Linked DNA regions of Homo sapiens: region 1 is linked to region 2. The links come from fine-mapping of genetic effects on gene expression. A gene starts in region 2. The other region holds a variant in brackets. All regions are shown on one strand. Distances are between the middles of the regions. Region 1 overlaps ARMH3 (armadillo like helical domain containing 3). Region 2 holds the start of KCNIP2-AS1 (KCNIP2 antisense RNA 1).

Evidence for each region.
Region 1: its variant is fine-mapped to the expression of KCNIP2-AS1 in whole blood (INTERVAL, PIP above 0.99).

Annotation. Positions count from the first base shown.
Region 1 is chr10:101,963,396-101,968,765 of GRCh38, forward strand. All of the region lies in intron 20 of ARMH3 (armadillo like helical domain containing 3), which reads right to left. Among named protein-coding and RNA genes, the nearest start is that of ARMH3, 90 kb to the right of the region's middle. The variant T/G (reference allele first, on the strand shown) is at 2,901.
Region 2 is chr10:101,816,224-101,821,593 of GRCh38, forward strand. It overlaps KCNIP2-AS1 (KCNIP2 antisense RNA 1), which reads left to right and starts at 2,845. Exons shown (of 3, transcript NR_045118.1): 1 at 2,845-3,025. It overlaps OGA (O-GlcNAcase), which reads right to left and starts at 2,221. Exons shown (of 16, transcript NM_012215.5): 1 at 1,601-2,221. The coding sequence starts at 1,799. RefSeq lists enhancers at 1,754-2,329, 2,131-2,250 and silencers at 1,781-1,840, 1,921-1,980.

The DNA of each region.
Region 1 (5,370 bases), 150 kb after region 2:
CAAAGTGCTGGGATTACAGGTGTGAGCCACCGTGCCCAGCCATTTTTGTATTTTTAGTAGAGACGGGGTTTCACCATGTTGGCCAGGCTGGTCTCGAACTCTTGACCTCAGGTGATCCACCCGCCTCAGCCCTACAAAGTGCTGACATTACAGGCATGAGCCACTGTGCCTGGCCTATTTACTTATTTGTTTTTATTTTTTATTTATTTATTTTTGTTTTTGAGATGGAGTTTTGCTCTTGTTGCCCAGGGTGGAGTGCAACGGCACGATCTCGGCTCTCCGCGACCTCTGTCTCTTGGGTTCAAGCGATTCTCCTGCCTCAGCCTCCCGAGTAGCTGGGATTACAGGCATGGGCCACTGCACTTGGCTGTCTCCTGGTAGTAGTTTTAAAAGGTCAACTTAAAATAAGGTGGTAGTAGGCTACTGACCTACTTATTTTATGCCATTTCCCTTTCGTTAAAGTAGGGGTTCTCTTTTTCTTTCTTTTTTTTTTTTTTTTGAGACGGAGTCTTGCTCTGTCGCCCAGGCTGGACTGCAGTGGTGTGATCTCGGCTCACTGCAAGCTCCGCCTCCCAGGTTCACGCCATTCTCCTGCCTCAGCCTCCCGAGCAGCTGGGACTACAGGCGCCCGCCACCACGCCTGGCTAATTTTTTGTATTTTTAATAGAGATGGGGTTTCACCGTGTTAGCCAGGATAGTCTCGATCTCCTGACCTCGTGATCCGCCCACTTCGGCCTCCCAAAGTGCTGGGACTGCAGGTGTAAGCCACTGCGCCCGGCAATTTTTGCATTTTTAATAAAGACAGGGTTTCGCCACGTTGGCCAGGCTGGTCTCAAACTCCTGACCTCAAGTGATCTGCCCGCCTTGGCTTCCCAAAGTGCTAGGATTACAGGCATGAGCCATCACTCCTGGCCAGCTCAGAGTACATGTCTCTAAATGTCTTAGGACTTCACTCCACTGGCCTAAGATAATTAAACGCACACAATCTCAAAAAAACAAGCGATTGCAGGAACTCAAACAAGTATTTGTACACCCATGTTTACAGCAGCATCATTCACAACAGCCAAAAGGTGGAAGCAACCCAAATGTCCATCAAAAGATGAACGAATAAACAAAATATGGTATATACATATGGCAGAATATTACTCAGCCTTAAAAAGGAAGAAAATTCTGACAACATAGATGAACCTTGAAGATATTATTCTAAGTGAAATAAACCAGTTACAAAAGGACAAATGCTGTTTAATTCCACTTAAATGAAATACCCAGAGTAATCAAATTCAGAATTAGTGTTGCCAGGGTCTGGCATGAGGGGGAATTAAGAATTATTGCTGGCCAGACACGGTGGCTCACACCTGTAATCCCAGCACTTTGGAGGCCAAGGAAGGTGGATTACCTGAGGTCAGGAGTTCAAGACCAGCCTGTAACATGGTGAAACCCCGTCTTTACCAAAAAAAAAAAAAAAAAATTAGCCTGGCATGGTGGTACACACCTATAGTCCCAGCTACTCGGGAGGCTGAGGCAGGAGAATCACTTGAACCCAGAGGCGGAAGTTGCAGTGAACCAAGATTGCACCACTGCACTCCCACCTGGGTGACAGAGTGAGACTCCATCTCAAAAAAAGAAAAAAAAAAGTTTTTGTTTAATGAGTACTGAGTTTCAGTTTGGGAAGATAAAAAAAAGTACTGGAAATGGAAGGTAGTGATGGTTGCACAATGTGAATATACTTAATGCCACTGAACTGTATGGTTAAACATAGTTACAATGATAAATTTTATGTTTATTTTACCCCAATTAAAAAGAAAAACAAAAGGTCAATGTTTTTCTTTCCACAGACACTCCCAACAGCCTCACAAACACTCCAGTCTCACTTTCTGTAACCTCTGCATAACTGACTGGCTGACATTCACGTCAAAGTACACCATACTAAGTACAGGGACAAACACACAAAGATGCTTCCTCACTGATAGGTAAAAGGAAAGGAGCCAAATATACTCAATCAACAGAGAGCCCATGAACTTGAGCAGGAATGCAAATTCAAAATGAACCCCGGGCAGCCTTCAAGGCAACACTGTGGCAATCTTCAAAATAATCACCAAAGTTCACCATCCAAACTAACAATGCACTAAATACCAACACTATCCTACAAAATCCTCAGGGACTCTGGGTTTGATTCCTAATCCTTGCTGTTTCATCTGTTATACTTAATGAGGTTCCAAGTACTCTTAACTCTGCACCAAGTGAAGAACTGAGAAATTACTGCAGTAAAATATTTGAGGTATTATATTACACATTAAATACGTTTAAGTTGTAGGGAAGTGAGTGCTCAATACACACTCATTTCTTCATTGGCAAGTCTTTCATACCAGGCCCCTTGAAAACTTATTTTCTGGGCTGTTTTTCAGGAACTCCAAATTGGCTACAACTGCTCTCTTTTGACTCTGTACTAGAGGCAACTATCAGTCTCACACTCAGCTTCAGCCCATGTTCCCTTCCTTGGGGAGTCCTGTGCATCATATCTGCTGAAAGAGTATGACAACAGTGTGTAGAGTTCTGACTTTTCTGTATGCACATGCAGATAGAATATAGAAGAGTGTACAGGTTCGGGAAGCTGAGCCAGGACCAGGCACTCTGATGGTTCCCTAAGTCCCACGTGAATTCCTAGAGATAGAAGCAGACAATCTAATTTTTTTTTCTTTTTCTTTTCTTTTTTTTTTTTTTTTTTTAGACAGAGTCTCACTCTGTCACCCAGGCTGGAGTGGTGCAGTGGTGCAATCCCGGCTCACTGCAACCTCCACCTCCCGGGTTCAAGCGATTCTTGTGCCTTAGCTTCCTGAGTAGCTGGGATTACAGGCATGCACCACCACACCTGGCTAATTTTTGGTTTGGGTTTTTTTTTT[T/G]TTTTTTTTTTTTTTTTTTGAGACAGGCTGGAGTGCAATGGTGTGATCTTGGCTCACTGCAACCTCTGCCTCCCGGGTTCAAGCAATTCTTCTGCCTCAGCCTCCCAAGTAGCTGGGATTACAGGCGCCCGCCACCACGCCTGGCTAATTTTTGTATTTTTAGTAGAGACAGGGCTCCACCAGGCTGGTCTCGAACTCCTGACTTCAGGTGATCGGCCAAAGTGCTGGGATTATACGTGTGAGCCCCTGCGCCCAGCCCACCCTAATTTTCAAATAGGAAGAGTTGAATACGATCCATCTGAGAATCCTGCCATCTTACACAGTGCCCCCAACACACACCCCACAAGGAACCTTTTTTGCAGAGCTGTTCCTAGCATTAATACACAATGAGAACTTTCCCAGAATTTTTTCTATCCTGCTTTGAATTCAGGAGGAGGGAAAAAAGGTAGCAGCAAATTGTGTTGCCATGTAGCAGTAGAATGAATAATGGATATGAGAACTTCTCCAGGACTAAAACCTGTCCCCCACATTAAGGTAAACCAGGTGCAGAGAGGAACAAGCCAACCACAGGAAGACACAATTAAGTGGTAGCTCAGGCCTCTGCCTCAAAAAAGGAGAGGGGAGGCTTAATTATAAAACCAAGTGAATGACATTTAAATAAGATTAAAAACAGGAAAGAGACAGCCTCCAGGAGAGCACAAACTAATATCTCCAAAGAATCAGGTCAGAGAAAGCTGTCTATTTGAGCAGCTTTTACATGCTATGAAGACAAACAGCAAAGACAACACTCACCCAGACTTGATTTTGTGACCTGGCATGGAGCTAGGTTTAGGTACCACAGAACCCAAATCAAAACCTGTTCATTAGGAGAGATGGATAATTTCACAGTGACTAATAAAAGAATAATATTACCATCTCAGTTGCTTAGGAGAGAAGTCAAGAAACTCAAAGGACACGATGAAAATAGCACTAGTGTAACAAGCTCATGCCACCAAAACCCTGGAAGCACTATAAACTCTAGCCAATTCCAGCATCTCTGGACAAAATCACCAATTACCCAGGGACATTGCCAGCAATCAGCAGGCTCACTGTCAATCAGCAGAGTGGTGCAGGAGAGAATCTGAAGCCAACACCTGCCAGTAGAATAATTTAAAAATACTCAGCCAGATGCGGTGGCTCAAGCCTGTAATCCTAACACTTTGGGAGGCCAAGGTAGGTGGATCACAAGGTCAGGAGTTCAAGACCAGCCCGGCCAACATGGTAAAAGCCCGTCTCTACTAAAAATACAAAAATTAGCCAGGCATGGTGGTGTGCGCCTGTATTCCCAGCTACTCGGGAGGCTGAGGCAGGAGAATTGCTTGAACCAGGGAGGCAGAGGTTACGGTGAGCTGGGATCGCGCCACGGCACTCCAGCCTGGGCTACAGAGCAAGACTCAGTCGTGGGGGGAGCAGGGGGCGGGGAACAACTCTAGGTGGCTTTTCAGAATACAGGCATCTGTCTGGATGCAAGCCTAAGCACTTCACTGACACAGAGGCCAAAGAATCAAACAAGAAAATGAAATGGCTCTGGCTGTATGCTATCAGCCTCTCCAGGTGAACACAGCACACAAGTCAGTATGTCAACAGCCTGCACTGACTAAAGGCTCCACATTCCTCTAAATGAGTCAGAAATAGAACAAATCCTTTCTTTAAACGGAAATCTGCTTCCATCCTTACCATTTTCCTTGCAGTCAATGTGTATCTGCTAAAAAAAAAAAATAAATAAGGTTCTCAACCATCTTCCATTCCCCATTTTCTTGCAGACAATGCAAACCTCACAATTAGCACCCAGCCTCTTCTTTTTCATGAAAATGAGTTTCCACATGAAAGTTCCCAGATCCTAGACTTTGGGAAATGTAGGGTCCCTGTGCAGCTGCCTCTAACCAAGCATGCTCAGGAGCCACTGCCTTCTTCTAGGGCCCTATACCACCTGCTCCTTTCCCCCCACCGTTTCCTAAAGGAGTGATAGCCAAAATCACCCTTTAAGAAATCTAAAAGTCAATGAGACCATGTCTCAGTGGAGCCATCTGACACAGAACCAATAACTTTACTTTTTGCCAAAATGAGGTAGGACCAATAACAGACTTGTCTTGCTCCCTCGAGATCCAGAGAAGGATGATACCTTATGAAACCACATGACATGTCCCTTTGAAACTAATATAGGCAGAGTAACCAAAAGCACAGCTAATCCTTCCCTGGTCCCTTTTACTTGACAAAATGCTCATGGGCCTATGAGAGTTGACATTTTTCTGGATAGGAAGTGACTGCATGCACAGAGAAAAGAACAAAGTGATTTCTTGCTCTTTTGGGGGCTTTTACGTGGGAATCTTTTTCTCCCTGTAACAGGCTAAACCTGTTAGAGATTCTTATCTTTTGCTTCTGCCAAGTTTCTGAGGGGATGAGAGAAAGATTCAAAATAGTGTAAATTTTG
Region 2 (5,370 bases):
CTGCACTCCAGCCTGGGCGACAGAGCGAGACTCCGTCTCCCAAAACAAAAACAACAAAACACACAAAAAATCAGTGCTGGCTCAGGTGCTCAGTCACTAAGAAAATATACAAGGGCACGGGAGGGAGGAGGAATAAACGAGAGAATGGCAGACAACTCTGTTCTTTAAATAGGAAGAATCGCCTTTTAATGCTATTCTAAACAAACGAATTTAAACCAAATGAGTTTTCTCCTTTTATAACTGAAGGTATAATGGACTGGCAAGTTTCCTTAGACTCATTCCAGTCTAGCTCCGAAATTTCCCAGCACTCTCTCATCCCCACTCCAAGATCTTTGATAACAAAAACCAGATTCTTTTTCTAAAATCTCCCTGCACTCAAGCCAATAAATACAACGATATAAGTCACACAATGCAATCATTTTTGATGAATACTATATAGCAGTTTTCCATTCTGTAATCCCCCAAATTCTGCAAGACAGTTAACTTCGCTGAACTCTTTCATGCCTTACTGTAGCAGCAAAGTAGCCTGTTATGGTCTGTACCATAACCACCACCCATTTTTCGAAAGAATACTCTAATTTATATGGTGAAAAAAAACAGAAAAGCTGATGTTCTCAACGTCGAGAGCAATCCTTTTTCCATACCTTTTTGGTTTTTTAAATATATATATTTTTTACCCTTATCCACGCCATTACATACGAGAGAGATATAAAACAGACATCTAGGAAACTCTGAATCGGCCAAAATACTTCAGAAAATTCAAATACATGCTGTAACTGCGGAAAGACTAATAATGTAACCGATTCGTGCCTCTACAGAGCTGCAAGGTGGACTATCTGTCCATTCTCATCCAGAAACTGAAACAAGCATCTGGTAATTTTCCCTCACTACCAAAAAGTCCATCGTTCTTTTCGACTGTAAATGGGAAAAAAGGCGAGAAGGGCATTTTTAAAGCCGCTTCTGCGGTCACTAAATTCCAATTACGCATCTCAGATACTTCGAGAATCTGTGATTAAAGCCAAAGTTTCATCCCTCGAGAGCAAAGTACAGTAGCTGGGAAAGAGGGCAATTTTCTAAGTTGCAAATGAATCTTTGCGGGGGTGGGGGGAAGCAACAAAAATATTCTAAGCCAAGTGGAACTTGAAATACTATAGGCCAAACGTGCTTCTCTTCACTCCAGAAGTACAAGCACGTCAGTGTGGGCCGATTTTCCACAAAGGGTGGTGACAGAAGCACTACACATATTTTTTCACTGGAACCAGACAACCCTAGGGAATAAGATCCCAAGGTACAAAGAAGTAGAACTCAGAGGCTAACAGAACACCAGGCTCTTAACCACCGCCTCCTTAGGAGGTGGCCTGGCTCCAAGCCCAAGACGGGTGGGGTCAGACTTGTGAGTGGCCAGGGGGGAATTCGACGCCGTCTTAAGACGTGCAAGGAGATTCGCCCAACATCTCGTCTCTCCCCTCGCTTTAGGAGGGCCACATTTCAGACCCAGAGGCTTTCCGGCCTTTTAGAGTCTCCAAAATCCCCGCCACCACCCTCCTCCCGAGGACAGAACGTGTTAGTGCCAAAACGGGGAGGGAAGGAGGGCGCTCACCTTCCACCACACCGCAGAGGAACCGCCGAGCCCCTCCTGCAGCCCCGGCCACCGCCGCTCCCCCAGCCCCGGCGGGGTTGTCTTCTCCGGGTGCCGGAGCTGCCGGCGGCTCCAGCGATGCCCCCGCAGAGGCGGCAGGGTTGGAGCTGAGCTCGCTCTCCCGCTCCTCCAACGTCGCTTGACTCTCCTTCTGCACCATCCTCCTGCCCCCGGCCGCTGCCACCTCTGCGGGTCCTCCTCGACCTCTGTCCGTTGGGGCACCGGCCCGGAGCCCTGGAGAGGGCTTCAGCTCCAAGTGTGCGCCCCTCCGGCTCCTTCCCCTCCCCCTCTGCCCTTCCCCCTCCCTCTCCGCAGGGACCCGAATGCCCGGATGAGAAGGGCGGCGGCACCGGCGCGAGCCCTTTGTCAGCCGCAGCCTCGGCTTTAAGCTGGGGCGCCAGAAGCCTAAGCGGAGAGCGAGGCTGTGACCTCTCGTTCCCTGGAAGAAGACGGCCAAGGGTCCTGTCCTCGTTCTCTGCCTCTGCTGCCCTCCCGATAATCTTAGGTCTTCCGCTGTTTCCCCTCCAAGCCCCGAGCTCTCCCTCTGCTGCTGCCTCCACCGCCCGCTTCCTGTTTATCCGCACTGCGCTTGCGCTGCAGACCGGCTCAGACCGGTCCCCTCCGCCCGGCTCCCCCGCCTTCTTTGGGGCTAGCCTATTAAGCTTCTTTAGGTAGGGGGAAATAGAACAGGAGACGCGAAAAGCAGAAGGTAATGAAGGCAGTGGAATGTACCATTTCTGCTTGCCACCCTCCGAAACAAGCCTGGCACCCTGGGACGGACGGACCATTACCCGCCCCGAAGGAGGGGAGTATGGGAGGAGGCTGCCGCCGGTTGGGGCAATAGGGAGAAGGGGGGAAGGTGAAAAGGAGAGGTGTTTATTCTCTCAGTGCGCAGGCGCGGAGCCGCGGCCTCTCGTTCTTAAAGAGATAGGAAAGAACTGACCTACTTTCTATGGAGATTCTTGTAATAGGTGGGCTCATTACATCTGCCTAACCCAGGCTTGGTTCGGTAAAGACACCATTCCAAGGAGCTCAGCTCACCCCTCTGCCTTGAATCATTTTCCCCTAATCCCATTTAAAATGTAATCATTCGTTCATTCCTTCATTCAGTAGACATCTATAGAGCTTGCCTCGTGCTGGGCTCTAGAACACTATGAGCTCACAGTACGGTGGTGGAGACAAGCCACCACACACGCAGTTCCCACAAGGTGTCCCCAAGAACTTCGGAGCTCAGAACAGGTGATACTCACTCCTCCTTTGGGGAGAGGCCGTGGGCATGGCTTCACTTTTCAGCTGGATTATAAAGGATGTGAAGTTAGCCTGACTGAGCAGAAGGGGAGGGAAGACAGCACTCCAGGAAAGTGGAACGAACAACAGAGTCCAAAGGTAGGGAGGCATGAAAAGCCTGCCTTGTTTGGGAATGGGGAGCGCGCGGTGTGTGCAGTGGGGCATGAGATCCCTTCGGCCTCGGCATGGGCATCGCTTCCTTGGGAAGCCTTCCCTGAGCCCTAGATGGGTTTGGGTCTCCTTGCTGTATGTTCTCAGAGCTCTCTTGTAGACCTACCCTAATGCACTTTACATTTATGATGCTTGAGAAATCTATCTCAACCTGTGAGGTATAAACATGAAATGATGATTAAGACTTAGTAATGTCCATCTTACACTTCAGTCTGATATTTACCTTCTTTAGCCGTAGCCCAACTTGTAGTTTCAGGGACTTTCATGGTCCCTCTTCTTTTCAGTCCTGGATTGTTGAGATGGGGGTTAGGAGCAAACTTTTTTTTTTTTTTTGAGACAGAGTTTCACTCTGTCGCCCAGGCTGGAGCGCAGGAGCGCAGTGGCGCAATCTCGGCTCACTGCAGCCTTCACCTCCTGGGCTCAGGCTATTCTCCTGCCTCAACCTCTCGAGTAGCTGAGACTACAGGCACCCGCCACCACACCCGGCTAATTTTGTGTTTTTAATAGAGACGGGGTTTCGCCACGTTGACTAGGCTAGTCTTGAACTCCTGACCTCAGGTGATCCACCTGCCTCGGCCTCCCAAAGTGCTGGGATTACAGGTGTGAGCCACCGCGCCCGGCCGGACAAGCATTTTCTTAAGGGACCTCCTGTGCTGAGAGTTAGGGGCCATAGCAGCTTTACTGGATATTGTGGTCCGTTGGGGTTGAGAACACAATTTTTTTTTTTTTTTTTTTTTTGTAAGAGAAGAGGTCTCATTTTGCCACGCAGGCTAGTGCAATCATAGCTTAAGTATCGAATTCCTGGGCTCTCAAGGGATCTTCCCGCCTTAGCCATCCCGAGTAGCTGGGACTATAGGCGAGTGCCCGCCACCACACTCTTTTAATTTGTTCATTTTTGGTAGAGACGGGGGTCTCAACATCTTGCCCAAGCTGGTCTCAAACTCTTGGGCTCAGGTGATCCTCCAGTCTCAGCCTCCCAAAGTGCTGGGATTACAGACACGTGCCACCTCACCTGGCCGAAAAGAACTTTTATCTGAGGAATGAGAGTCCTTTTAAATTATCAGGCCCAGATGGCTGGGCGCAGTGTTGGTGTTTGCAACCAGCCTGGGCAATATTGCCAGACCCAGTCTTTATAAAAAAATAAAAATAGGCCGGGCGTGGTGGCTCACACCTGTAATCCCAGCACTTTGGGAGGCCGAGGCAGATGGATCACCTGAGGTCGGGAGTTCGAGACCAGCCTGACCAACATGGAGAAACCCCGTTTCTACTAAAAATACAAAATTAGCTGGGCATGGTGGCAGATGCCTGTAATCCCAGCTACTCGGGAGGCTGAGGCAGGAGAATCACTTGAACCCGGGTTGCGTGAGCCGAGATCGTGCCATTGCACTCCAACCTGGGCAACAAAAGCTAAACTCCATCTCAAAAAAAAAACAAAAAAAAAAAAAAAAAAAAAAAGCCAGGCGTAGTGGTGTGCACCTGTAGTGCTAGGATCTCACCACTGCACTCCAGCCTGAGCCACAGAACAAGACCCTGCCTCTAAAAAAAAAAAAATTAAAAAATAAATAAATCTTTAAAAATTAAAAATAAATAAATAGGCCCAGCGAGGCATTAAAATGACAGAATCAGCCGGGCTCAGTGGCTCACGCCTGTAATCCCAGCACTTTGAGAGGCCAAGGCGGGCAGAAAGTCAGGAGTTCAAGAATAGCCTGGCCATCATGTTGAAACTCCGTCTCTACTAAAACTACAAACAATAGCTGGGCATGGTGGTGCGCGCCTGTAATCCCAGCTATTTGGGAGGCTGAGGCAGGAGAATCACTTGAACCTGGGAGGCAGAGGTTGCAGTGAGCCAAGATCGTGCCACTGCCCTCCAGCCAGGGCAACAGAGTGAGACTCAGTCTCAAAAAAAAAAAAAAAGAAAAGAAAATGACAGAATCACATCCTATGCCTCCCTCCTTTGAGCTATGTATTCATCTCTTGACACTGCTTGCTCTTGCCACAAGTAGCTATAAATTAACCTAATAATGTTGTACTGGACATTCTAACACACACCCTATAGTTTAACAATGTATAGCCAATCAATAGCTTATGTTATTTTAATGTAAACTGTTGGTAAATAACTCAGGAACTGCCTCTTCTTTCCCTATAAAAATCCACTTGTAACTGCTGCTAATCAGAGTGTCTATTTAGGGCAACTTGAATCTATGCTCTTTCGTTGCAATCCTCAAGCTTATAATAAACTCTCTACTTGTATTCATTTTGCCTCAGCTTCTTCC